Homo sapiens: one gene and its partners. The protein of the gene in region 7 purifies or fractionates together with the protein of the main gene of each other region. This does not show direct contact. Each region holds a gene or a part of one and is shown on either strand. Other genes may lie near its edges. The genes, in order: TMEM9, IARS1, TMEM9B, SLC12A4, ERLIN1, PRKAR2A and PKN2.

The links.
Region 1: the proteins of PKN2 (region 7) and TMEM9 fractionate together in Homo sapiens (co-fractionation; one large-scale study listed by BioGRID). This does not show direct contact.
Region 2: the proteins of PKN2 (region 7) and IARS1 purify together in Homo sapiens (affinity purification with mass spectrometry; one large-scale study listed by BioGRID and IntAct). This does not show direct contact.
Region 3: the proteins of PKN2 (region 7) and TMEM9B fractionate together in Homo sapiens (co-fractionation; one large-scale study listed by BioGRID). This does not show direct contact.
Region 4: the proteins of PKN2 (region 7) and SLC12A4 fractionate together in Homo sapiens (co-fractionation; one large-scale study listed by BioGRID). This does not show direct contact.
Region 5: the proteins of PKN2 (region 7) and ERLIN1 purify together in Homo sapiens (affinity purification with mass spectrometry; one large-scale study listed by BioGRID and IntAct). This does not show direct contact.
Region 6: the proteins of PKN2 (region 7) and PRKAR2A fractionate together in Homo sapiens (co-fractionation; one large-scale study listed by BioGRID). This does not show direct contact.

What each region holds. Positions count from the first base shown.
Region 1 is NC_000001.11:201,144,453-201,148,351, reverse strand, and holds part of TMEM9 (proton-transporting V-type ATPase complex assembly regulator TMEM9 isoform a precursor), read left to right. Parts: intron 1-1,503; coding exon 1,504-1,612; intron 1,613-3,016; exon of another isoform or gene 3,017-3,243; intron 3,244-3,899. UniProt on the Homo sapiens protein: Transmembrane protein that binds to and facilitates the assembly of lysosomal proton-transporting V-type ATPase (v-ATPase), resulting in enhanced lysosomal acidification and trafficking.
Region 2 is NC_000009.12:92,290,682-92,295,312, reverse strand, and holds the start of IARS1 (isoleucine--tRNA ligase, cytoplasmic), read left to right. Parts: upstream 1-1,615; 5' UTR 1,616-1,702; exon of another isoform or gene 1,703-1,872; intron 1,873-2,719; exon of another isoform or gene 2,720-2,855; intron 2,856-4,390; exon of another isoform or gene 4,391-4,477; intron 4,478-4,631. UniProt on the Homo sapiens protein: Catalyzes the specific attachment of an amino acid to its cognate tRNA in a 2 step reaction: the amino acid (AA) is first activated by ATP to form AA-AMP and then transferred to the acceptor end of the tRNA.
Region 3 is NC_000011.10:8,950,873-8,954,771, forward strand, and holds part of TMEM9B (transmembrane protein 9B isoform a precursor), read right to left. Parts: intron 2,466-3,899; coding exon 2,331-2,465; intron 1-2,330. UniProt on the Homo sapiens protein: Enhances production of pro-inflammatory cytokines induced by TNF, IL1B, and TLR ligands. Has a role in TNF activation of both the NF-kappaB and MAPK pathways.
Region 4 is NC_000016.10:67,948,078-67,951,976, reverse strand, and holds part of SLC12A4 (solute carrier family 12 member 4), read left to right. Parts: coding exon 1-154; intron 155-672; coding exon 673-837; intron 838-916; coding exon 917-1,015; intron 1,016-1,265; coding exon 1,266-1,323; intron 1,324-1,483; coding exon 1,484-1,658; intron 1,659-2,058; coding exon 2,059-2,177; intron 2,178-3,817; coding exon 3,818-3,899. UniProt on the Homo sapiens protein: Mediates electroneutral potassium-chloride cotransport when activated by cell swelling. May contribute to cell volume homeostasis in single cells. May be involved in the regulation of basolateral Cl(-) exit in NaCl absorbing epithelia.
Region 5 is NC_000010.11:100,168,878-100,172,776, reverse strand, and holds part of ERLIN1 (erlin-1), read left to right. Parts: intron 1-3,899. UniProt on the Homo sapiens protein: Component of the ERLIN1/ERLIN2 complex which mediates the endoplasmic reticulum-associated degradation (ERAD) of inositol 1,4,5-trisphosphate receptors (IP3Rs).
Region 6 is NC_000003.12:48,760,679-48,764,577, forward strand, and holds part of PRKAR2A (cAMP-dependent protein kinase type II-alpha regulatory subunit), read right to left. Parts: intron 1-3,899. UniProt on the Homo sapiens protein: Regulatory subunit of the cAMP-dependent protein kinases involved in cAMP signaling in cells. Type II regulatory chains mediate membrane association by binding to anchoring proteins, including the MAP2 kinase.
Region 7 is NC_000001.11:88,687,245-88,691,143, reverse strand, and holds part of PKN2 (serine/threonine-protein kinase N2), read right to left. Parts: intron 1-3,899. UniProt on the Homo sapiens protein: PKC-related serine/threonine-protein kinase and Rho/Rac effector protein that participates in specific signal transduction responses in the cell.

The DNA of each region.
Region 1 (3,899 bases), about 110 Mb from region 7:
TGCTGATCTGAGGAAGGCTGGGAATGAGAGGCCTGAGACAAGCCAGGTACCAGCCCAGGCCCCACTGAGGCTGAGTCAGAAGTAAAGACCTGTGGCTGAGGGTCTAGATTTGGGTTCTGGCCTCACTACCACTATGGAGATGCCACTTTGCCTCCTAAGCCTCTTTCCCTGTTTTTAGATGTGGAACCTATGATCTTTATCCCACCTTACGCAAGAGTGCTGTTAGATGAAAGTGGGTCTACTCTTCCTTTGGGAATCATGTAGTTACTAAGCCTGCTCTGGCCAGCACCCAGCTAGGTACTGGGAATATGGAGATGTATAAGACATAACCCTGTGTTCAAGGAACGTACATCTCCTGGGGAGACAGCACGAATAAAGATTGGATTACAATGCAGTGCATTGGCGGGGGGTTGGGGGGAGCTGGCTATTGGGCACAGGTGGCTAAGCTGAGAGTTAAAAGATGAGGTGGCAAAGCCATGCCCTCCTGGTGAGAGTGTGGGTGTGGCTCCTTCAGAGAGCAGCCTGGCAGATCCGTGTGGCTGGAGGTTGGGAAAGTGGGTGAGGGAGGCGTAGCAAGAGATGGAACTGGAGTGAGGTGGGTTGGGACCCCTGGCAGAGCAATTGAGTTAGCATTGGCCCTAGGGGCTCTGTGGAGGCACTGACCGGGCCTAAGCTGGGGAATGACATGACCAGAGTTGCATTCTGGAAAACCACTTGGCTGCCGTGGGAAGGTAGTATGTGTTAGAAAGGCCAAACTCGAGGCAGGAGGGCAGCGCGGAGGCTGGTGCGGTTGTCCGAGGAAGATAGGATGAGGGCCTCAGCTAAGACACAGCAGTGGGAGAGAATAAAGGAGATGGATTCTAGGAATTTTTAGGGAAGTAAAATCACTGGCCTTTGGTGATTTTACTTAGATGAGAGGAAGGCAGTGTCAAAGATGATTTCCAGGGTTTGACCCGGACAGTGAAGTGGACGGTAGAAGTGTTCTCTCTGCCATTGCAAATGGGGAGCCAGTTTGCAGGAGTAGGGAGTTGAGGGCAAAGGGTGTGCAGGGGCGGGTGTAGAGTTCATGGTCTCTATGGGACATGCACATAGTGACTCCTGTAGCTCATAGAGGAGAGCGGCCCTGGCTGGAGATTCTGATCTAAGATCCGTCAGCTTCTGAGTTGAACCTTTGGGACAGATGAGCACATGCCGGGAGAACATAGCATGAGATGAGGAAGGCGGCTGGGGGTAGAACCCTGGGAACGTTGATGGTTTTGGAGCCAGCCCTGTAGGCAGTTTGGAGAGCTGGTTTTGATGTGTAAGGGGCATGGGCTGTGAGGCTGTGGGTTAGGAAGGGTTTCTGCCAGCCTAATCCTTTATAAGCCCTTGGCCCTCTCTGGGAGCACCCTTCACCTTTGCCTAGCCCCTACCTCTCAGCTCCCCTGGCTACCTGCTTCTCTGGTCTTGAGGCTCTAAGACGTGGTGGCCCTGCCTCGACAGCCCTGTCTCTCTCTGTTGTAGCAACTGCCTGCACGTGGTGGAGCCCATGCCAGTGCCTGGCCATGACGTGGAGGCCTACTGCCTGCTGTGCGAGTGCAGGTACGAGGAGCGCAGCACCACCACCATCAAGGTAACGCCAGGGTCTCAGGAAGCCAGTGGGATTCCCACACGCCATTCTCCAATCGCAGACTGGCCTACACCCACAGTTTTTCACTTTATTCTGGAATGTCCCAATGGCTATGAGACTGGCTTCTAGGCTGGCCTAGTGCAGACACTGGGACCCACATCCCACACCTTCCTGGAGCCAGCTCCCTTCTCTGCTCTCTTTCCAGTAGTTACCATTACAGTGAGAGGGGAGAGCCCTGGGAGAGCTGCTGGAGACTCCTTTTTCCCTGCATTCTTTACAGTTTATTTCGTTCCTCTCCCTTCTTCTATTCATCCAGTAAATCTCTTTTCGGTGCCTGCTATATTCTGGGCAAGATGCTGCCAATGGGGAGGTTGGGCTGCCCTCCTGGAGCTTAGTCTAATTAAGCTTCCAAAGTGACTAAGCTCCTCTAAAAAGCATCAGAGCTGTGGACTAGGGCTGGGTGTTGGGTGCTGGGAGAACATCAGATTGGTTCTTTTGTGTTTTCCTGAACCACCTTCTCATTGATCATTTGGGTGAATTCAGGAAAGAGATGATAGACACAGTCACCACCATAGACGTCACGAGGTGTCTGTTCATTCCTGCACCAGGCAGAACTTCCCGTGTCTTCTAGAGGCTGTGAAGCCGCCCTAGCAGAGACCGTCATGACCCCCAGCCCCCCAGTGCGGCTTCCTAGTCCAGGTTCTAACAATCCTGGGCCAGGCACCTGGCACACACAGTACTCACTGATTACATAGCCATTTCTTTTTTTGTTTGTTTTTTAGAGACTGGGTCTGACTCTGTTGCCTATGCTGTAGTCCAGTGGCACGATCACAGCTCACTGCAGCTCTGACCTCCCAGGCCCATGCAACCCTCCCACCTCAGCCTCCTGATTAGCTAGGACCACAGGTGCACATCACCACACCCAGCTAATTTTTTAAATTTTTGGTAGAGACAGGGTCTCACTGTCTTGCCCAGGCTTGTCTCGAACTCCTGGCCTCAAGCACTGCTCCAGCCTTGGCTTCCCGAAGTGCTGGGATTATAGGTGTGAGCTCCATGCCTGGCCTAATGTAGCCCTTTCTGTTCCAGTTTGTAGCATTTTTCTGCTTGTCCTTTGAAGAGTCTATAAATAGCATTGGAAAATAATTCTCATATTTAAAGGCACTGCTGGGTCCTCCATCAGGTTTCTCCTTTCGAGGCACATTTAGGGGGCGGTGGTCTTCACTGCTGTCCTTCCTGCCTATTCCAGGGAGCCCTGTGCTGTAGCTCCTCTGTGTTCTCACCACTCAGGGAAAAAGCAGCTGTCTGTCCTTCACTCCCAGCCAGTGCCCTGTGCAGACCCAACTCCTTTCATCCACCTGAGGCAGCCCCTCCTGCAACTGTCATTCTCCTTCTCTGAACTTGCTCCAGTGGGCCTCACCCTCCAGGGACCAGATGCCTGAGACCTGAAATTCAGAGCCAGATGTCACCGCTGCTCCCTGTTTGGCCGGGAGGGAACTTCCTGGCATGGGGACCTCATCAGATACAACTTCCTAATCCCTCGTGTTTCCCCCAGTCCTCCTACCTAGGAGGCTCCCCTCAACTTCAGCCTATTGAAGACCCAGCCTCTGTTCTCCTTCCGCCTTCCTGGGGTACAGGTGAGGTCTGATTATTTGCCCTGTTTAAACAGGCGTGAACGCGGTGCCCCAATCAGGTGGGACATTGGTCCAGTGGAACTTGGCTATTGGCTGAGCGGGGCACCCAGCTTGAAAGTCCTGAGGTTCTTTTTTTCACTCTTCTTCACAGTCTAGGTAGGGCAGGGCTGAGATCAGAAGCCGGCAATGGCCAGGCATTGTGGAATTAGGAAAAGCATTTGAGAGGGAGTCAGCAAGTCTGGGTTTGAGTCACACCTCCACCATCTGGTAGCCTTGGGATCACAGGTGATCTAGCCCAGCAGTTCTCAATCAGATGATTACAGCCCCCCCAGGGGGCATTTAGAGGTGGGTGAAGGTGCTTTTGTGGTCCCAATAACAGGTGTATTACCAACACTGTTACAGGGACCATGGATGCTAAATGTCCCACCCAAAATCCCAGAGCACCCACATTGAGAAACATTGAATTTGCCTCATTAAATCTGTCTTTTCTGTAAAAACAAAATGACTCCAGCTTGTGAAGCACTGTGTATGTAAGAGATTCGTGGAGTTGTTGTTCTACCCTTGGCTTTCCCCTCCCTGCAGAGGGGCTGATGGGAGGGCAGGCGTGACCTTCACCCCCAGCACACACCTTCTTACCAGCCCTAGCCACTCTGCTCAGG
Region 2 (4,631 bases), on a different chromosome or scaffold from region 7:
GTTCTGGTGTGCTCTCATGGTGACTGGCCAAGGAGAAGCACCCCTCTGCGCAGAAGTAAAATTGCTTTGCTGAAAATCCTTTGTTTGAATGTTCAATTTCCTTAGGATTTTGAGCATTATTTCCAACACAACAGTACTATTAATATAAATGTTTCTCAATCAAATTTTTAAATAATTAGACTTGGCCTACCTCACCTTTGTCCAGGAGCCCTCTGTCTGGCTCTATCTGGGCTCTCTGGATAGGTGACAAAAATGAACTGAACAAGGTGGCAACGTGAGGAATGTGAAAACTTCAAACACATTCCAAATACTTTCAGTTAATTAACAAGATTTGCAGCTATTAAATTATGTACGTTATGTGAGTATAGTCAGAACACTGAGTTACCCATGATGGAGGACATGAAACCACTTTAATCCTTCACACAGGGCCAAGACGGTAAGTAAAGTTAAATATATGCTGAACAGACTATCAAAATGTTCCTAAACTTAATAAGAAACTGCATTCTACCTATTCTAGGCCAGATAAATTTTTTATATCCCTCTAACGGATACAATAGGCAGCTACGGAACTACTCCCAATTTGGCAAGATCCAGAATTTCCTTTAGAGGCTCTGGGGCCAAAGCCCGAGGCCTACTGCCCTTTGCAAGGCTCCAGATTTTAACCAGCAGATCAGTAAGGTACCAAGCCGACTCATAGCAATGATAATAAGTATGCAGGCCGGGTGCAGTGGCTCATGCCTGTAATCCCAACAGTTAAGGAGGCTAAGGCAAGCAGATCGCTTGAGCCCACGAGTTTGACAGCAGCCTAGGCAACATAGCAAGACCCCGTTGCTACAGAAAATACAAAAATTAGCCGGGCGTGGTGGCGCTAGCCTGTAGTCCCAGCTACTTGGCCAGGGATGAGGTGCGAGGATCATCTGATCCGGGGAGGTTGAGGCTGCAGTGAGCCATGACCGTGCCACTGCACTCCAGCCTGGGCGACAGAATGAGACCGCTTCTCAAAAAAAGAAAAAAAAATCGTTTGTGCAATGTTTTCATTACCGGAAACATTTTAAGTAAAATACAATAAAACTTTTAAATCTGGTTGTCAGACCCTTCCTTCCCTTTTGTTATTATCGTTTCACGTAGCCATTTATGATAGGAGAAGCGGCTTTGGGGTCGGCGGCTCAGGGCCCAAAAGTATAATTATTAAAGCCACCTCTCCGGAAGTTGCTGTTTGTCGTTATCAATTTAGGTACGAAGTGTCCAGTCAGATAAATACTGACAAAAGCAAACAAGATGAAGAACATGAGCCCCGACCTCGGCGCCCCTTCCCAGTGGGCCGTCACCTACCCGGAGGTGCCCACAACCCGAGTGAGACCTCGGTCTACACTACTGCAACGGATACAAGCAGCACGCACAGCGCCGCCCTCAGCGCTGGTTCGTTTTCCACGTGGAGGCGCAAAACCAGCAAGCACCACTGTCGCACCATCCGAGCCAGTGGGCGCAATCATGTCCGGCGCGACCAATCGGCGCCTGGCTTGTTGGCAGGTGTCAGGCAGCGCGCACTGATTGGCCGGTGCGGAGCCTGTCTCCTTCACTGGATCCCGCATTTTCAGCGCGTTGCATCACCTCCGTGCGCCCGGTTGCAGCGTGGACGCCGGATGAGTTGCTTTTAGGCTTGCTGGCCCGCGGGGCTGTCCAGGCACGCGAGGCCCCTCAGGTACGCCCTCTCTTCCCTGCAGGATCCGGCCCTCAAAGACGAGGGTCACGCACGCGTTACAACCCCGAAACAGTAGCACAAGATTTAATTTTTAAAAGAGCGTGTTTCTTCGGGGCTTGCCGTTCGTTCGTTTCCAGCCTCAGGAATTTATGGTCGCCTTTTTGAATGAGGTAGTGTTTGAAATGAGTAAAATCTTTTTAAAATGATATACATAGTATAAATTGATATAGCTGTGACTTTATGTATAGGCAATACGTATTTTTATATGTCTTAATTTATTACCTTCAATGGCTGCGAGATACTTATTTTATTGATGTACCGTAATTTACTTCAGTCACCATGAATATTTAGATTGTTTTCAGTTATTTGCCTGGAGAAACAATTATTCGGTGAATGTCATTGTATACACATTTTGTACATTTGCATGAGTATACCTGTGGAGTCTATGTTAATAGGATATAACTAAATTGAGGAAACGTTTGAGACGGTCCCACTTTCAGGTTACATTTGACTTAATAGATTATGAAGACCTGAGAATAAAAGGAGAAACAGAAATGGATTTAGAGGAGAATGAAAAGGGGGAACAGAAATAGGCTTATAGGTAGGATCCACATGACTTGATGATTAATTGGTTGTGTGTATCTTCTGAGTAGTGTCAGGGGTGACTCAAAAATGTCATGCCTAAGTAATGGGAAGAATATTGGAACCACTAATACAGTAGTTTAAAAGGGAAGCAATTCTGGAAGGAATTATGAAATTTTAAACAAAACATGGTTTTAGTGTGCGTTTCTAAAATATATTGAGGCAAAATAATATGAAGTAATGTGAATAATATGTAGTTAATATCAGGGAGGGTGGTCTCGAAATTGCTGAACGGGAAGTTGAGGTTAAGGTGACCTGAAGGAGTTGTGGAGCAGCGAAGAGTCAAGGGCCTGGATTATAATAAGAGGGAAGCAAAGGGGATGGCATCCCTCTGCACAACAAGGTTGTTGTGCAAGGTTAACCTGCTCTGTCCCTGCCCTGTGGTTGCTGGATGCTGTTGTGCATGGACAGCTCTCCAGTGGATTCGATGGGCCATAGCAATCCTGTGATTTATGCATGGAGGCTGCTTCTCCTCAGCAGCTGCCATAGCCCGGTCGCTGGTACATGATTCTTCCTGAATAGTCAATGCTGTTATACTGAGTGTTTATGCTTGACGTAATAATGCAGTGATTCTTAATCTTTGGGGAAAGTAGAGACTCCCTAAAAAACACAGTAAAAGCTGAATGAGCTGGCCAGGCATAGTGGCTCATGCCTGTAATCCCAGCCCTTTGGGAGCCCAGGGCAAGAGGATCGCTTTAGCCTAGGAGTTGAAGACCAGCCAGGGCAACATGGCAAAACCCTGTCTCTACAAACCACCCCCTCCCCACCAAAAAAAAAAAAAAAAAAAGCTGAGTGTGGTGGTGCACACCTGTAGTCCTAGCTACTTGGCGGGCTAAACTGGGAGGAACACCTGAACCCAGGGAGGTCAAGGCTGCAGTGAGCCATGATTGTGCCACTGCACTCCAGCCTAGGTGACAGAGTGAGCCACTGTCTCAAAAAAAAAAAAAAAAAAGGAATGATCCTCTTCTCAGAAAGCTTAAATCTTATTTTCTCAAAAATAAAAATTCAGATAGATATTCCTGAATAATTGTTAGAACAGTGCAAGAGTGGTGATGTTCAGACTTTGATGTGAATGCTCATCCCCTAGGGATCTTGTTAAAATGCAGGTTCTGACTCGTAGGTGCGAGGTGAGGCTGGTAAGTCTGCATCTCTAATAAGCTCCCATAGATGTGGGCCATAGTAGGACCAGCCTTGAAGAGATTAGAATGTGTTGGTATCTAAAGGTCTGTTAGTCTTCAGATAACAATCCCATAAGTTTCAGTTGGCCTCTGATAAGGTACACAATGAACCTAAATAAATCAGTAAATGCACAAACACTTATTTTGGTCCTTGAAAGGCTAGAGGTTATAATAAGAGTTGAAGATCTAAAATGCCTTAAACCTTCTGTTTAATACCTTTTAATGGCATACTGTGATCAGAAATAGCTATTTCAGTTAGTTAAACAGCCCAACTGTTCTTGTCCTGTTTTTTCTTAAATTAAACTCAGAGGCACTCACACATCTGAAAAATTAATGAGGGTAAAAGAAAATGAAAGATACTACTTGTCACAGACTTTTTTTTAAATGATAACTTGAATCAATAACTTGATTAGACTATGATGCTTTTGATGCTTTCAAAACTGTTTGAGGTATGTAGGTGTCTTTTCCTGTAGAGTTGATTACCCTGGTCTGTTGTGGTTCTTGAGTACTTAAGATTTTTTATCTTCTCTGTTGTTCCCTTATTAGCAATTTTATCCCCTTCTGATCTGATACTGACTTGGAAAGCTCGTCACCCACCTTGTTAGAATTGTTAAGTAAATATAAATAGACTTTGAGAAGGAAAGGTCTCAAGGGTGGCTCACTAGATACTTAAGTCATAGATTGATCAAGTATCTCTGCATGAGGTTATTAGCAAAACATTTAAAAAGACACTTTAAGACTTCTCTCATTAGGGACTAAACCAGAAAGGTATAGGGCTCATCCTTCATAAAAATCATGAATAAGCAATAAAAAGGGTAAAATGGAAAACTGGAATCTATATTTGAATGTGAGATTCTCATCTTTTTAGCTTTAAGATTTTTTAAGTTTTACCAGTTTTCCTCAAAGAGAAGATGAAGTTACTTCAAGAGAACTGATTTCTGTCATGTGAGTGTAGGTAAGAAAATTCTTAACTACTTTGAGATATTTTTCTTCAGATTATTAATGAGTTTTTTGCACCACTAGATAGAATTTCCAAGATTTTCCTGCTTACTTTTGGAAACATTGTCTCTACCATTACTGAATATTAAATAATAGCCATGTACCCCTCC
Region 3 (3,899 bases), on a different chromosome or scaffold from region 7:
TTAAAGTATATAAATAGTGCAGAACTCACATCTTGGATAAGCAACAGTTTTAAAAATTAAAATTCACTTATTTTTGTAGAGTTGTTACCATAAATTCACAGCTCTGGTCAGAAAACCTCTCTGCCTAGAATCAGTTTAAAAGACATCCAAGAGTCAGCCAGGCCTCACAGAGACAGTGTTCTCAAATAGTCAATACACAAGCAGAATCAATCACTGGTGGACAAAACAATTACTGAGCATGTGATCCCACCAATTAAATGCCTGCCCTACATGTTTTCATCTCTACATCCATTTCTCTTATGTTTTGTGTTATTATATTGTCTATTTCTGAAATCAGGAACAGATATTTAACGCTGTAAAGGAAGGATGTCGTTTAAGACTTTCAACGTCTATGCCTATAGATGCACGAGCCATTCCAGGGTAAAAGGACTTTTGACTGGCTGGCAAGGGCTCACTCTGGGTTTGGCTTTTGAATTGAACCTTAAAACTATTCTGAATTTTACCCATTTTAAGGAACATAGTCCAATATAATAATCCACGAGAAAAAGTAATTTCTAAAAAAATAATTATATATAATAATGAAAGAATGGAAAATTCAGCTGGGTGCGGTGGCTCACGCCTGTAATCCCAGCACTTTGGGAGGCCGAGGCAGGGGGATCATGAGGTCAGGAGATTGAGACCATCCTGGCTAACACAGTGAAACCCCGTCTCTACTAGAAAAAAAAAATACGAAAAATTAGCCGGGCGCGATGGCGGGCGCCTGTAGTTCCAGCTACTTGGGAGGCTGAGGCAGGAGAATGGCGTGAACCCGGGAGGCGGAGCTTGCAGTGCGCTGAGATCGCACCACTGCAGTCCAGCCGGGGCAACAGAGCGAGACTGCGTCTCAAAAAAAAAAAAAAAGGAAAATTCAGAAACAATTTCATACAGGGTAATGATGAAACAAAAATATCCAGCCAGGCGCAGTGGCTCACACCTGTAATCCCAGCACTTTGGGAGGCCGAGGCGAGCTGATCACTTGAGGTCAGGAGTTCAAGAGCAGCCTGGCCAAAATGGTGAAACTCCGTCTCTACTAAAAATACAAAAAAAATTAGCCAGGCGTGGTGGCAGGTGCCTGTAGAACCAGCTACCTGGGAGGCTGAGGCAGGAGAATTGCTTGAACTTGGGAGGCTGAGGTTGTAGTGAGCCAAAGTCACGCCACTGCACTCCAGCATGGGCGACAGAGTGAGACTCCGTCTCAAAAAACAAAAAAAACATTCTCTAAGCTACACTGAAAAACAGATTTGTGGACTAAGTCAATTTCTGGACATTTTTGAATAAACGAATATTAAAACAAAAAGGAGACCATGAAGCAATTTATACAGATTATGCCAACTATATACACACACACACACACACACACACACACACGCTATATATATATATATATAAACATATATAATGTACACACGTGTGTGTGTGTGTGTGTGAGAGATTTAAAGACAGGAAGAGAATCTGGAGTGATGGTAGTCATGGTTTTATTTTTCTCTAAAGATCTCAGATTTTTTTTTTCTTTTTTTTTAAACAGGCTTCTTGCTGTGTTGCTTAGGCTGGAGTCCTATGGTGTGATCACAGTTCTGCAGCCTCAAACTCCTGGGGTCAAGTGACACTCCTGTCTCAGCCTCCTGAATAGTTGGGACCACAGGCATGCACCACCACACCCGGCTAATGCTTTTATTTTTTGTAGAGACAGGGTCTCACCATGTTGACCAGGGTGGTCTTGAACTCCTGGGCTCAAGTGATCCTCCCACCTTGGCCTCCCAAAGTGCTGGGATTACAGGTGTATGCCCCCACACCTGGCCCACAGATTTTTTTTTAAGCAGTAGAAAAAAAGGAAATATAAAACATCAGCAGGTTATCAAGTTGTACTTCATTAAGAAAAGAACATCATGATCTTCACACTTCCCTTGATGAAAACCTCTCTGCCTTCTAAAATATTTGGTGATATTGACAGAGAAGGTGTTTCAGGCAGGAGAGCTTGGAGAGAAAACCATCTCTGATACTTTTCTCAATGTAAACAGGGAATGGCAATAAAATTGTGCCTTTGGTACTGAAAGCAAGGCCCTGTATAGCATGCTCACCAAAGATCATCGTTTAAATCATCACATTTATGGCTTCATCAAGCAATTTCTTCATAAAGAGGTATATACTGAAATCAGAGCTGTTTTTAGCTTCTCTAGTTGAGGATCTGCTTCAGCACGTGAACATCTATATATGACTATTTTTCACTTGCACTTCACATCGAATGATGACAGGGACTGGCCATGAGCAGCTAGGGCAGGCTGGGAACTTACCCCAATATCATCATCACTCTGTATCAACTGTGCATGTCCAAAGAGGCGCCTCTTCAGTATGGGCTCAACCAGAGTAAGATATACCATGTACAGAAGTAGAAGGCCCAAAATGGAGAGATAAATTATAATGGTAACCTAAAGGAAATTGAAAATTAAGTTACATCTTTGTTCAAGCCCATAAATCAGAACTTTGTATGATAATAGTAAAACTGACTGACATATCTGCTAAGCCTATAGGATTTCTATACAAACCAGATAGCAATATAAGAAATAAACTCAACTCTTCACCAAAGTATTATTTAAGAAAAAAAGAGGAAAGATCTTTGGGATTTTTTTGCAAGTCTTCAAGACTCCAACTTCACCTACTGCTAATCACCTGTCACCACTGCTAGCACAGCAGTTTGTTTCTTTTCCCAGCTGAACATAATGTCCTAAATTCAGCTACTCTTTAGCTCAATTTAGATATACAAAAGTATTTTCTAGGCCGGTGATTTTTTCTTGTGACCTTAATTCATGTACTGAGAAAAAGTACAGTGTGACACACCCACTAGAAGGACTACAATAAAATAAATAGACAATACCAAGTATTAGCAAGGATATGGAGAAACAGCCCTCATACGCTGTGGTGGGAATGTAAAGTGGTACAACCACTTTGGGAAACAATCTGGCAGTCTCTTAAAAAGTTAAACATAATTTTACCATTCTAAGGAATTAACCCAAGAGAATGGAAAACATATATATCCATACAAAGACATATGTGCAGATATTCACAACAGTATTATTCATAATAGTAAAAACCCAGACATAATCCAAACGTCCATCAACTGATAAATGCATATTCATATAGTGAAATACTATTCAGCAATAAAAAGAAACGAAGTACTGATACATGCTACAACTTGCATAAACATCAAAAACATTGTGCTAAATGAAAGAAGCCAGTCACAGAAGACTATATATTATATGATTCCATATACATGAAATGTCCATGTATGCAGAGACAGAAAGTAGACTAGTGACCGAGTAGGGCTGGAAATGGGAATTAACTGTAAATGGGCATGAGGGATCTTTTTGGGGTAGTGGGAATGTTCTGAAACTGGATTTTATTTTTTTTTTTTTGAGACAGAGTCTCACTGGAGTGCAGTGGCACGATCTCAGCTCACTGCAACCTCTGCCTCCAGGATCAAGTGATTCTCATGCCGTAGCCTCCCAAGTAGCTGGGACTACAGGTGCGTGCCACCACACCTGGCTAATTTTTATATTTTTAGTAGAGATGGGGTTTCACCACGTTGGACAGGCTGGTCTCGAACTCCTGACCTCAAGTGATCCACCCGCCTCGGACTTCCAAAGTGCTGGGATTATAGATGTGAGCCACCATGCCTGGCCTGAAACTGGATTTTAAAATGTTTTAAATCTACTAAAATTTATAGAATTGTATACTTATAGTGAGTGACTTTTAGGGTACATAAGTTGTATATTTTTTACAAATCTGTTAAATAATAGTACAGTGAGGATTTATCTAAAGTTCAGCACCCTGCTGGAGCAAGAGCTCTTCCACAGGGTCAATCA
Region 4 (3,899 bases), on a different chromosome or scaffold from region 7:
GCTGTAGTGGACAATGAGACAGTGGCCACCCAGCTATGGAGTTTCTTCTGCCACAGCCCCAACCTTACGACCGACTCCTGTGACCCCTACTTCATGCTCAACAATGTGACCGAGATCCCTGGCATCCCCGGGGCAGCTGCTGGTGTGCTCCAGGGTGGGTCCTCCCTCCCGTCGTCTTGCTCTTGAGCCCACAGGCTGAGCAGGGGCACAGAGCACAGAGCTGTCCTTGTGTGGCCAGCTTGGGAACGGGGGCAGGACTGGCCGCCTTCCCAGCCCCCCAGTGTCCTCCCAGCCTGGCTCCTGGCAGCCGAGTTTGGAGTGAGTGGAGCCTGTCTGGCCAGCGTCCAAGGCCTGCAGCAGCCTGTCTTCCCCAGCCACCAGCCCCTGACACTGCCTGGGGATGTTCCCACAGGATCCATAAAGGCCTCTGTGGAAGGCGGGCAGTGGCGGGCTCTGGGTGACGGTGGTTCAGCCACCTTTGTCTGTCGACTTCTAGCTGGGCAGCTCCTTCTCTGTGGTCAGGGTAGCCCTGTGGCTGACGCTGCAGTCATTGGGCTGAAGCTGTTCCCTGAGTCCCCAAAGTTGCCCTGCATCTGCGCCTCTGGCTAGGCTGCCCCAAACTACCTGGGGTAGTGGGGGGCAGCTGTGGTGGTGACACAGCTACCCCTGCAGAAAACCTGTGGAGCGCCTACCTGGAGAAGGGTGACATCGTGGAGAAGCATGGGCTGCCCTCCGCAGATGCCCCGAGCCTGAAGGAGAGCCTGCCTCTGTACGTGGTCGCTGACATCGCCACATCCTTCACCGTGCTGGTCGGCATCTTCTTCCCTTCTGTAACAGGTGAGCCCTGCCTGCCTACCCACCCAGCCCTGTCCCCAATCCCGGGGAGCCCCTGAGGGAGTCTCATCTGTTTTTGGAGGCATCATGGCTGGCTCAAACCGCTCTGGGGACCTTCGTGACGCCCAGAAGTCTATCCCTGTGGGGACCATTCTGGCCATCATTACAACTTCCCTCGTGTGTATCCTTTCCCAGGCCTGGGGCAGGTGGGGCAGAGGACGGGAAGCGCTTGGCCTGTGTACGTTGCCAGGTCACATGCACAGACACCCCACACACTCATATATAGCTCCCCTTCTCATGCACACATGCACATACACACCACGAGACTCCCAGCTGTAGGTGTCCTGGTAGTCTGGCTGGGGTGGGGGCACGTGGTACTATTCAGGGACAGTGGGGTGGCAGAGGCCGAGTTTTCCTTGACGCCGCCGCAGACTTCAGCAGTGTGGTTCTCTTTGGTGCCTGCATTGAGGGTGTGGTTCTCCGGGACAAGTGAGTGAGCTGGGCCCCCCTCTTTAGCAGCGGCTGGGCTTTGGCCTGCCCTCACACCAGCTCCCAACCCCGTGGGTGGTCCTAAGCCTGCTGGCTGCCTTTGGTGGTCTGTGCCATCCTTCCGGACCCCTGACATCCCTCACTCTGGTGGCCCCTGCAGGTATGGCGATGGTGTCAGCAGGAACTTGGTGGTGGGCACACTGGCCTGGCCTTCACCCTGGGTCATCGTCATCGGCTCCTTCTTTTCAACGTGTGGCGCTGGCCTCCAGAGCCTCACAGGGGCACCACGCCTATTGCAGGCCATTGCCAAGGACAACATCATCCCCTTCCTCCGGGTGAGCCCCTCTGCACTCCCCCATGGCCTGGCTGCTCCCAGGCCCTCGCCCGGCTGGGGAGAGAGATAGGGAACACAGATGCAGCACGTCCTGCCCTTATTGGCCCCCGGGGCCAGGCGGCCATCCATGAGGAGCTACTGAGAAGTGCCCTGGGCCTGGCACTCACCTGGGCCTGGAGCTGCCTGGACCCAGAATCTTCATGGCCTGTTTAGGGCTCATCCAAAGGAGAGAGGCCTGGTGAGGTGGAATCAGGGAGACTGGTGACACCCATAGGGATAGACACAGGGGCGGCCTGAGCCCCCAAGGCGGGCCCTGGGGGTGAGGGAGGCCAGGCTGGGGTCTGGGGCCCAAGGTGTGGAATGGGGGTGACAGGACCCAGCTTCCTTCCTGGTGCACACAGGTGTTTGGCCACGGGAAGGTGAATGGTGAACCCACATGGGCACTCCTCCTGACGGCACTCATCGCCGAGCTGGGCATCCTCATCGCCTCCCTCGACATGGTGGCCCCCATCTTATCCATGTGAGCTGGGGCCGGGCAGGGCAGGGGGATGGGGAAAGGCTTCCTGAACCCCAGCACCTCCCCGTGGCTGCGTCTGGTGTTGGAGGTCCAGCTGGGAGATGTGGCAGGCTGCATGGGGAGATGTGGCCTGACAGGGCTCAGCCCACCCCTGCATTTAGGAGCAAGCCTGGCACCTATGCCAAAGCTATAAGGTGACCAATATGTCCACACCTCCCTGAGGCCCCCAGAGCAGGTGGCCGGCAGACCTTCCCACTGGACAGGGCAACCACCGCGTCCCTCATGCCTCCATGAAGCCACTGCTGCCCCTTCCATCTGTTAGTTTGTTTTTTGGTTTTTGTTTTTTTTTTTTGAGACAGAGTCTCACTCTCTCACCCAGGCTGGAGTGCAATGGCATGATCTTGGCTCACTGCAATCTCCGCCTCCTGGGTTCAAGCAATTCTCCTGCCTCAGCCTCCTGAGTAGCTGGGATTACAGAAATGCACCACCACGCCCAGCTAATTTTTTGTATTTTTAGTAGAGATGGCGTTTTACCATCTTGGCCAGGCTGGTGTCGAACTCCTGACGTCAGATGATCCACCTGGCTCGGCCTCCCAAAGTGCTGGGATTACAGGCGTGAGCCACCATGCCCAACCCATCCATTTTCAAAGTCATTTGCTTTTAACATTCTGGAATCAGCCAGGCAAATCTGCGTGCCAGTGCCTTGCAGGGAGTGGCCAGCATGTGGTGACTCCCAGGGACCCCGAGGCAGCGCTTGTTTGGTTGACTCTGTCCAGGCTGGGGTCCTCGCCCACCCTGCTCCGTGGCTGACGCTCCTTCTTGCTTGTGCGGTTATGAAAGGCCTCCTCTTCCCTGCCCACTCAGCCTGCAGACTTGACAGGGGCCCTGTACCCCTGAGCAGGCTCCATCCCAGCTACAGCCAGGCCTGCTGGAGCCAGCACCCTCTTGTCCACCCCCCCACACCCCTTCCTCTCACCCAAGAGCACACCTGAAACTGTTTTGCCACAGCCATCTTGGGTGGTGACCCCCCTTGTGCCCAAATCAGAGGCTACATCTCAGCCTTTATCTCGGGCCTCCTGCTGGGAGCCCCTGCCCCCTGGCATGCCCTGTGTGGGTCCTCCTGCCTTCCTGCGCACCCGTCCTCGGGTGCCTTCCTGGAGGGCTCATGCAGCTGGCCCTGCCCATGCGTGGGACTCCCACGCCCACCGCAGTGACTCTTAAGTATCTCTGACTGGTTGCATTCAAATGGTCCAGCTTATCTTCCATCCTCCCCTTCATGCATGGCAGCCTCTCATCCAGCTGGTCACTCAGGCCAGAGGCCTGAATGTGGCCTAGAGTCTCCAGGCACTGAGCTCTTCCTGCTGCCCCTGCACCACCCTCTTCAGCTCTGCCCTGTTACTCCCCTTCCTACCTCCTCCAACAGCAAACCCTTGCCCATCCTCTGCGATCTGGCTCCGAGGACTCCTCCACAGTAGTCTCATTGCCTCAGGCCATGGAGGTGGCAGCAATGAGGTTGAGAAGACCTTGCTGAGCCATGCAGGGCAGGGCCGGGCCACGCCCCGTTTCTGGGCCAGGCCCAGCCTGACATCAGGTCCCCAGCTGCCGAGGAGGCTGCTCTTCGCCAACCGCCCTCTGTGCCGCAGGTTCTTTCTGATGTGCTACCTGTTCGTGAACCTCGCCTGTGCGGTGCAGACACTCCTGAGGACCCCCAACTGGCGGCCCCGG
Region 5 (3,899 bases), on a different chromosome or scaffold from region 7:
ACATGTTCTTGTATGTACAAATTATCTTTCAAACTGACTGTACAAATGTACATTCTTAACAGCAATATGTGCAAATAATTGTGACCCATGAACTCACCAACATTGGAAGCAATCAGACATACTGATTGTTACCATATGGATGGGTGGGCAATTATATCTCCCTTTGATTTGCATTCCTTTGGTTGTTAATGAGGTTGAACATCTTTTGATACATTTATTGGTCATTTATACTGTCTTCTGCTGATTGCCTATTCATATCTTTTGCCCATTTTTCTGTTGGATTGTTTTCTTTCTTACTGATTTGTTCTGTATAAATTTGGAATTTTTATACACACACGTTATTTATGTTGTAGAAAAAAGTTAGATACTAGGAAAATGATGAAGAATAAAATGAAATTCACCAGTAATCTTATTATGCAGGGATAACATCATTTGTTATATCTTTCTCGACTATTCTTAATGTATATGAACAAATGTTTGTAGATATAAATGCATACATGCTCAACTAAAGCAGAATCATACCATACTTGCTTTTTTCACTAACATTGTCTATGAACATCTTTCCAAAACAAAAATATAGGTTTGGTAAATCATTACTTTTAATGGTTATATTTAGTGAATCTCTATGGTTTCAAATTTTTTACTACTGTATGCATGTTGGAATGACCAAGCTTATATATTCTGTACATCTTTTTAAATCCCTCTCTTACAATAAATTCTTGAAGTGGGATTGATGATCAAAGTGTATGCCCTGTTTGGGGGCTTATTGATACATACTACCGAATCACCTTTTAGAAAAATTTTAGCAGCTCCCCCCCTCATTAGCAGTGTTGGTAAGCTGTAGTTCTTACACATTTGATTGCATGATTGTACCCAAATAATTAGCAGATGCAAGCTTTCCCTTTCTCTCTTAATCCTTTTGGAGAAAATTAGTCTGTTATTTTGTGTTAATTATTGAAGTTGAATACCCTAGGTTATTAGCTGTTTTTATTTCATTTATAAATTGTTGGTTTTGCTCATTTTTGTAGTTAATGGTTTTTCTAACTGATTTTAATAAGCTATTTTTGGCTGGGCATAGCGGCTCACATCTGTAATCCCACCACTTTAGGAGGCTGAGGTGGAAAGCTCCCTTGAGCCCAGGAGTTTGAGGTCAGCTTGGACAACATAGTGAGACCCCTTCTCCACAAAAAATTTTTTTAAAAAATTAGGTAGGTGTGGTGGCATGTGCCTGTAGTCCCAGCTACTTGGGAGGCTGAGGTGGGAGGATGACTTGAACACAGCAGGTTGAGGCTGCAGTGAACTGTGTTCATGCTGTACTCTTGTCTGGGCAACAGAGCAAAACCCTGTCTATAAATAAATAAATAAATAGCATTTGTATATAGAGAACTTGTTTTTGAACCTTACCCTTTGAGAGGGGTAGAATTCGTTTTTAAAAATAAACTTTTTCATATGTTAGTTATTGTAGCTCTTTTTTATATTTATAGGAAACATTTTCTTCAAATTTTTTCTTTGTCATTTAACTTTGTTTTTTCCTTGCTGATAACTTTGAAGTGTTCATGTTTTACATAGTAATTTCAGTGATTTTGTCTTTATGGTGTGTTGCTGAGCTGGCATGTTTTAAGAGCTTTTCACCACCTTAAAAGTATAGCAATTAAAATTAGAAATTATAAAAATTGTATCTGCTTTTACAGTTGTATTCTTAGATTTAAATCTTTTAATTCATCTGCAACCCATTTTGATCTCAGTTGCAAGGTAGGCCTTCAGCTCCATCCCCTCAACCCCAAATTGGGTAACAGCGGTAATTACTGAATAGTTTATTTTTCCATCTTCCCCCTTCTTTGAAATAGTTTTTATGTTACATACTGCATTCCATTATATACTAGAGTCTTTTTCTGAACTTAGTTCTGTTCCATTGATCTTCCCATTCCTACTCTTTCATTAGTTATTGAGTCCTTGGTCTTTTCTCATCAAATCGAATTTTCTCCTGTGTTTTTCATCTTGTCAGTTAATGGTAACTCTTTCCCCTCAAGCCAATCTAGAAGTGTAGGAGGCATCTTTGACAATCGCCTCACCCTCAGCATCTAATCAGTCCCTATGTCCTGCAGATTCCACCACCAAAATCCATGTATTAATAAAACTGACCACACCTCCATCTTCACTGTCATCTCAAGCCAAGCTACCAACTCTAACCTTGACATGTGCAGTAGCAGTAGCCGCCTGTCTTCTTTCCCCACTTTCACTTTTACCTTTGTCTACTTCATTTTCTGCACAACAGCCAGAAGGATCTTTTGAATTTACTTATATTTATTTGCTGTTTTTATAAAAAGTTATTGATTGAAAAAATGTAGTTTTGTTATACGTTCTTAAAGTGGTAGAGATCTCCATTGTTTTAGGGTTTAAAAAAATTTTAAAATAATTTTTATATTTTGCAATAACTTAAGCATACCCTGAGAAGAGAAGAGCTCCTTTGCTTTGGTTGCTTTTGTCTTGTTATAAAATTTTTTTTACAATAGTTGGAATGCATTTTAAGAATTTCAAGGCTGTTTTTGAGCTTTGTTATTTTTAACACATTACCATATGGTTGTGATAATTCAACTTTTTATTTTAAAATCTGGCAAGAGACATCATCTTTTAAAAAATAATGGCCTTTGCTGTTTCTGCCAGCTTAATCTTCCAGATGAGTTTTCATTATCGATATTTTCAAGCTATATCAGGCACCTAAGTGGTCATATACATGTTGTTTTGTTTTGTTTTGTTTTGAGACAGGGTCTCCCTCTGTTGCCCAGGCTGGAGTGCAGTGGCATGATCATAGGTCACTGCAGCCTTGAACTCCTGGGCTCAAGTGATTCTCCTGCCTTAGCCTCCCAAGTAGCTAGGAGTACAGGTACACACCCCCACATCTGGCTAATTTTTTTATTTTTTGTAGAGATGGGCCTTTGCCGTGTTGCCCAGGCTGGTCTCAAACTCCTGGCCTCATGCAATCCTCCAATATAAGTTAAAAATAGAAACATAGTTTATGGCTTTACTTTATCATATCAGCCTTTTTGGTTTTTAGAATTTCTGATTTAGGGGAGAAACTCATATCCTAAGTTAAATTAATACCAATGGATTTAATGAATTTTAATGCTGTTCAATATGTAGTCTTTTTTTTTTTTAATCATTGAGGAATGTGATTGATTCTTGGTAGATTTATCTTATATCTACAACTTGAATTCACTGCCTTCTAGTAATTTTTGGGTTACTATTTTTACAGTCACTATTATATTTTTTTCCTTTCCATATATTTATATACCATTTTTCTTCTTGAAAAACTACTCTGGCAAATTAGAATGATGAAAATGGTCATCTTTGATTTTTTTTTTCCTATGTTATTTAAGGGAGTGACTATATTATAGACTGGCTTTTGATATATAATATATGCTTAAAACCCAGGGGTCAGTTTCAATACATATATTCCTTTCATTAGCCATTTTTTTCCTCCATTCACTCTATGTATGTGAGTGGGATGGGGGCATTATTTTATTATTTGAGGTTAAGAGCAGAGGTTTAATAGGCAAAAGAAACAGAAAGGAGAATAGCTCTCTCTCCTGTGAGGGAGAGGGGTGCCTGAGTGGGACTTCCCACTTTTACTTTTAAAATCTCTTTTGATGCAACTTACTCATGGTATCTGTACAGTAAGTGTTTATGTTTTCACATATTTGAAAATCTGTGAGATTTCCCAAGATTGGCAAGCACAATGTAGTATGTTCTTCAGCCTCATTCAGCAAAATAGGAGTCTTCAAAAGACAGTCCTGGCCGAGTGTGGTGGCTCACGCCTGTAATCCCAGCACTTTGGGAGGCCGAGGTGGTTGGATCACCTGAGTTCAGGAGTTCGAGACCAGCTTGACCAACACAGTGAA
Region 6 (3,899 bases), on a different chromosome or scaffold from region 7:
AAAAAAATTAGCTGGGCATGGTGGTGCATGCCTGTAATCCCAGCTACTCAGGAAGCTGAGGCAGGAGAATCGCTTGAACACAGGAGGCGGGGGTGGTGGTGAGCTGAGATCGTGGCATTGCACTCTGGCCTGGGCAACAAGAGCAAAACTCCGTCTCAAAAAAAAAAAAAAAAAAATTAGCTTAGTGTGGTGGCATTACTTGGAAGGCTAAGGGAAGAGTATTGCTTGAGCCTAGAAGTTCAAGGCTGCAGTGAGCTATGATTGCACACTGTACTGAAGCCTGAAAGACAGAGTGAGACCTTGCTTCTAATAAACAAAAACAAGGCTGAGTGCAGTGGCTCACACCTGTAATCCCAGCACTTTGGGAGGCAGAGGAAGGAGGATCACGAGGTCAGGAGACTGAGACCATGCTGGCTAACACGGTGAAACCTGTCTCTACTAAAAACACAAAAAATTAGCCGGACGTGGTGGCGGGCGCCTGTAGTCCCAGCTACTTGGGAGGCTGAGGCAGGAGAATGGCGTGAACCCAGGAGGCGGAGCTTGCAGTGAGCCGAGATCACACCACTGCACTCTAGCCTGGGTGACAGAGGGAGACTCCATCTCAAAAAAACAAAACAAAAACAATAAAAATAACTCAAAATGGATCACAGACCTAAGGTAAGAGCTAAAATTCTGACTGTCTAGAGCTGTACTGCTCAATACATTAGCCACGAGTCAAATGTGGCTGAGCACTTGAAATGTTGCTAGTATAAACTTAGATGTGCTATAGATGGAAAACATACATTAGATTTTGAAGACAGTATTAAAAATGTAAAATATCTCATTAATAAAGTTTTATATCACTTAGATGTTGAAACAACATTTTAGATATACTGAGTTAAATGAAATATATTAAAATTAAGTTCACCATTTCAAATATCTACTGAAAGTTTTTATTTATTTATTTTTTTTGAGACCAAGTCTTGCTCTGTCCCCCAGGCTAGAATGCAAGTGGCATGATCTTGGCTCACTGCAACCTCTGCCTCCCAAGTTCAAACGATTCTCGTGCTTCAACCTCCCAAGTAGCTGGGATTACAGTTGTGCACCAGCAAACTCAGCTAATTTTTTTTATTACTTTTTAGTAGAGACGAGGTTTCGCCATGTTGGCCAGGCTGGTCTCGAACTCCTGGCCTCAAGTTATCTGCCTCAAGCTATTCAGCCTCCCAGAGTGCTGGGATTACAGGCGTGAGCCACCCTGCCTGACCAAAAATTTTTAAAATTACATATGTGGCTCACATATTATTTCTATTGAATAGTGCTGGTCTTAGAAGTAAACTTAGGAGAACATATTATTGATTTTGCAAAGATTTCCTAAAATACAGCAGCAAAAGTACACAACTACAAAGAAGAAAAGATGATAAACTGGACTTGTCAAAATTAAAACCATTTTCTCTTCAAAAGATACCATTAAGAAAATGAAGGCCAGGTGCGGAGGTGCACACCTATAATCCCAGCACTTAGAAGGCCAAGGCGGGCAGATGGCTTGAGCTCAGGAGTTCGAGACCAGGCTGGGCAATATAGCAAGACCCTGACTGTAATTTTTTTAAAAAAGGCTGTAAATACTATTTATTGGTGAGAATGCAGAGAAACTGGAATTTTCATACATGGCTGGTAGGAATACAAGACAGTACAGCCATTTTAAGAAACAGTTTGTTATGAAGTTAAAATATAATTTAGCAATTGCACTCTTAAGTATTTACTAAGGAGGCCAGCCTGGCCAACATGGTGAAATCCCATTTCTACTAAAAAAACACACACATGCACAAAATTAGCTGGGCAGAGTGACACGTGCCTCTGGTCCCAGCTACTCGGGAGGCTGAGGCACAAGAATCGCTTGAACCTGGGAGGCAGAGGTTGCAGTGAGCTGAGATTATGCCACTGTACTCCAGCTTGGGCAACAGGGCAAGACTGTATCTCATTAAAAAGAAAAAGTAATGGGAGGCTGAGGCAAGAGAATAGCTTGAACCTGGGAGGTGGAGGTTATGGTGAGCTGAGATTGCGCCATTGCACTCCAGCCTGGGCAACAAGAGGAAAACTCCGTCTCAAAAAGAAAAAAAAATTACATTTGTACAATGAAATATTATTAGCAATAAAAAGGAACGATCTACTGATACATACAACACGAATAAATCTCAAAAATATTATGCTAAGAGAAAGAAGCCAGACACAGAGACTATACATTACATGATTTCATTTATACTAAATTGTAGAAAGGAATTTCTACAGTGACAGAAAACATCAATGGTTTCCAGGAATGTGAGTGTGGGGGAGGGTACTGACTGCAAATACAAAACAAGGAACTGTATGGGTGATGGAAATACCACTTGGGGATGGTTACAAAACTCTTCCGATTTGTACACTTAAACTTAGTAATTTTATTGTATGTAAAATACACTGTAACAAAGCTGATCAAAACAAATGAAACAACATAAAATGTAGTTTCTGATTCAGCAGGTCTGGTGGGGGGCTCCAGAACTTGCATTCCTAACAATTCTAACATCCTCAGATGATGCTGATTGCTGCTGGTCCTGGGACCTCACTTTGAGAAGCCTTGGTCCAGTGAGAGACATTGACAAAAGGGACCTACAATAAGCCCCTTTTAATATCATCTTAATTAATGTCCATTCTGTACCACTACCTATCTACCTTGAAGATAGATAGCACTCTATCTTCAAGAGCACAGACCATGAAGAAAACACTATTGACTTCTCACATCTCCTGACATACTTCCTGAAAACCCAGTATGAGACAGGCCTAGAACCTTCAGGATGACTTGAAGGTCCTTTGAATGTTACTTAAAGCACCTTAGGTTCAGAAGCAAATGTGGCCAGTTAACATCTCCCATTTCTGAATCTCAGCACTACATTCTTACCATACCAGGATACCTGCTCTGAAACACAGCTCACACCACTGGCCTTTGCTAATATTGTTTTCTTGCTCTGAAGGACCTTTCCCTGATCCCAAACATTGAAATTGCACTTGTTTTTTAAGCCCATCTCAAATGGCATTTCCTCAATGAAACCATATGTATTACTTCCATTTCTATGTTCTCACTGTCGTTCATACTCTCCTTCATTATAGTGCTTATCATATCTGGTCCTACCTATCTTAATAAATGTTTATAGAATATTCCAATTTCTAATTAAAAGAATTATTAATAGTAACGGCTCCTAGAAAACAAATACATTTAGAGATGTGACTCAGAGTAGACATCATATTTTTGTTAGTCCTTTATCTCTTCCAAGGGAGCTTTTTTCTCCCCTTTTATGGTAAGTCTGATTAGTCCTTGTGTTCTAGTGGGGCCAACTCCACCCACAGGACCCACACCTGACCAATCTGAGCCTTTCCTCCTCGTAGTCTCAGTACTGGGTTCTAGGATAAGCATATCACCCAACCTAGACCAACCATGTATCTTCTCCGTGCTCTTGAGCCAGAACCATAGGCAGATAAGCTTATACCTGGAAAAGTCCAATACTATTTATGTTTAATTAAAAATACAAACACAGCGGACAAAGAAAATTATCAGACAGTACTCATTACAATGATCTAGCCCACTGTTTAGTAATCTTTACATCTTACAAATTTGGTTAATCACTGAAGACTGTGAACTCTGATTTGTGTTAGATTAGCCAAAAGGATGCCTTTGTGTCAAATATAGAAAGTTAGAGGACAGAACTCTTTAACCTTCCCCAGGTTCTAATAGCAATGGATGAAACTTACTTAAGGTCAAAAGAAAATGACATCAAAAGAACAAACACTAGAAGCCAAGGAAAGGTGAGAGGAAGCAAGAGATCTGCACGTGTCAGTAAGACGGACGTCAATAAGCTTCAGAGGACTACATAATAGTCCTCTGAAGTATG
Region 7 (3,899 bases):
TGCAGTGAGCCGAGATCACGTCACTGCACTTCAAGCTGGGTGACAGAACGAGATCCTGTCTCAAAAATAAAAATAAAAATAAAATAAATAAAAAACTCTCAGCACATGTATTGTGTGGTATGTCTTCTATAATCAAAAATAAATTCCAAATTTTGTCATAACTACATTCCATTAAATTAAGGTACTTATGAGCCAGGGCAGTAAAACTTTCACCAATTTGATAAGTCACTGACAAATTTCTAAAAGAGATAAATCCTAACAATATTATGTAAGTCTTGTATATCCACTCATCTTTATGAGGCACTTCAACACTACCTTCACATTTAAGGTGTTTACTGTCATCAAGTACACTGTCCCATGCTTTCTTGATCTTCATTTTTTACAGGCAATATTTATGTATATAATGTTACACAAATTTCATTTTTGTGATTGCAAAAAAAAACCAAGTATGATAATAGAGCTAGTTTCAAACAAGATTTCATCAGATAAAATTAAGACAAGCTAGACATGCATCAAGATAAAGATTCTCTATTTCTGTTTCATTAAGGAATTACTTTTTCATTAGTATATTTTTCCCACTCTAAATTTTAAATCTTTTTAAAGCTTTTAACTAGTTTTCAACTTTGCTGTCAAGTTTGAACTCTGCTGTATATCAAAAGTTGATCATATTAAATGTCATATACTGTAGAGTAAAATTGGCTTTTGAAATAATATAGACATTTGACAATTATCAGCACAGTATATTTTATGAGGGAATAATGTAGAATTAACTGTTTTATTCAAATACCATTTATGGTATGAAAGTAACATTATTTTAGGTGATGTTTACAAACTACTACTTTATTTGTTTAAAAGTAAACATGCTTCTGATGAATGGCATGAAAATTTACCATTGCCAAATTCAAAAAGCAGAAATAAGAGAGCCCAAGGAATCAGATGCTAAGCTCTGGGATAAAGAGATGATGTCTAAAAGGTGCCCCTACTTGTCCCTATTTCAACACTATGTGAATGGTAGGAATTGCATGATACTAGACCTAATCTCTATTACACTAATGAGAGATGACAAAAAAATCCATTTTAGAGCCATCATTTAGTAACACTAGTTTTAACACAGACTTTTATCTTGGTAGTCAAGAAATATTTGGAAAGTTATTTAGTATGTTTAATTCAGCAAAGTATGCGCTGCAAATTACAAACATTGTGGTAGTCTATAAGAGCAGCAACAATCAAACCTAAGCCGGAAAAACACACTGTATTGCTATATTATTCAAAGAAATTGTTGCTATACTTCATTACTGTCTATTACTAAATCCATACTACTGCACTTTTCTTTGAGACAGGTTCTCACTCTGTCACCAAGGCTGGAGTGCAGTTGCGTGATCTCAGCTCACTGCAACCTCCGCCTCCTGAGTTCAAGCAATTCTTGTGCCTCAGCCTCCCAAGTAGTTGGGATTACAGGCACACATCACCACACCTGGCTAATTTTTGTATTTTTAGTAGAGACAGGGTTTCACCAAGTTGGCCAGGCTAGTCTCGAACTCCTGACCTCAGGTGATCCGCCTGTCTCAGCCTCCCAAAGCACTGGAATTACAGGTGTGAGCCACTATGCCCAGCCTGCACTTTTCTTCTTAATAAAGCCGTGACTCATAATTGAAATATTTTGAGATTAAAAAAGGCAATAAAAGCTAATTAGATCCACTCATCTAGAACCAGTGGCAAGAAAAAAGTTTTTAACCTACTGTGATTTCTATCTTAAAATTCTCTGAGCTTCATTTTTCTTCAAAATTCTAGTAAGTAAAATGAGATAAAGAAAAAAAAGAAAAAATGGACTCTACAGCCATGGGACTTTTAGGTGGAAAAAGTCTGTCAGTCTCTAAGTGACAGAACTATGAGCAACTTTTATTTTCTTTTGTGCTTTTCCACATTTTCTGGATTTTCTGTAATACATGTGCATTACATTTCTAATTTGAAAACAATGTAAAGTCTGTCTTAACTACCCTGTTTACCTTCTCATACCACCAACCCCCAAACCACCCTAAAATTTTAATCCTCCCAACTCAGACCTTCCACTTTCCAGTGTCACTGCAAAATTAGATGCCGTCTTCTCATTTTCCATTAAATGAGTAAACTACCAGTGTGCTATATGGAAGAATGATGTAACTACTATAGAAATCCCTTTTGTACTTTTAAAGAGAATATTTTTGGGAGAAGGGATTAGAAATGTAAATTAAAGAAAACTACGTAATTTCATATGTCAAAGATTATAATGAACTTCTCTTAAAATAACCTAGACATCCCTCCTCCTACGTGACAAATGGAGCATTCTCATCAATGTATTGCGCACCTACTAAGTGTCAAACACAGAGCTAGGTTACATGTGAGTATAAAATTTTAAAGCAAAGCACAGTCTACAGAGTAATGTTAAATCTTTTGGGAAGTTTTGGGCAAGCATGTGACACCTTTCATTAGAAACAGTAATTCTTAATGAAGAAACCCTGTAAAAAGATTATTTGTACTATTATTCTTTGTGAAATATTAGACTGTATCTACAATAATAAAACACTGCTAAATTATAGACTACCAAGTGGAATGTAGAAATCATTTTTCCTTGTTACAGACGGAGCTAACAAGTAGTGTAAAGTTAATGTTGGTTAATTACGTTTTTGGCCAATTTGTAGAAAGTTCATACAACTATAACATTAGATGCAAAACATTTATAGTTCCCCAGAACTGTGGCAATTTAAATAATGGTGTAGTGGCGCCGGGCATGGTGGCTCACACCTGTAATCCCAGCACTTTGGGAGGCCGAGGCAAGCGAATCACGAGGTCAGGAGTTCAAGACCAGCCTGGCCAACATAATGAAACCCCGTCTCTACTAAAAATACAAAAAATTAGCCGGGTGTGGTGGCAGGTGCCTGTAATCCCAGCTACTTGGGAGGCTGAGGCAGGAGAATCGCTTGAACCTGGGAGGTGGAGATTGCAGTGAGCAGAGATCACACCACTGCACTCTAGCCTGGGTGACAGTGCGAGACTCCGTCTCCAGAAAAAAAAAAAAGAATAGTGTAGTGGGAAACATACAGACCTGGGTTCAAACTCAGACACACAATGTAACCATGAGCAATTTCCTTAACATTCTTGAACTTGTTTCCTGATCCACAACATGGAAATAACACCTACCTTATTGGATTGTTGTGAAGATCAAATAAGGTGTATAGGACACTAAGTACAATGTCTGATATATAGCAAATAATTTTTAAAATGTTATTTGTAGTCTCTTATAATTATCTTCTAGTACAATTATCTATACTCTCTTCTGGAAAGCAAAAACCTATCTTGTCATCTTTATATCCTCCAATATAGCTTTGGTAGATACTACATAACTGTTTGGTGAAATTAACCCCTGTAATTTAAGGGTAACTATCTCAACTTTCCACTTGAGCAAGTTACCTCTATCTAAATAAAATCTGCTGAGAATGGAATTTAAGATTCCCAGACCAACACTTTATTGGGCATTTTGATGAAGAAAATGAATCTCCAATAATCAACAAGGTAGCTTTGTTAGTACACTGCTCAATATTTGGTCTGCATTCTACAAAATTACCATTGTAGCCAACACTTTCATTCTGAGATTCTTTACAGTTTTCATTAATCCAGGTTTCTTGGAAATAGACTTTAGTTTCTTTGGCATTGCAAAAATGTCTGTTTTCTGCTATACTTCAAATAAAAAAAGAGAATACAACACAACAAATTAGTTATGAGATAAAAATTAGAAATTGGCCATTTTAAACAGCCGATTTTTATTTTTACTACAGTAAATATTCTTCCTTATACCTTGAAACCTCTAGCCACCAAAGTTTACATAGTTTATTAATGCTTCCTTGTTGAATAAGCCTCCTGAA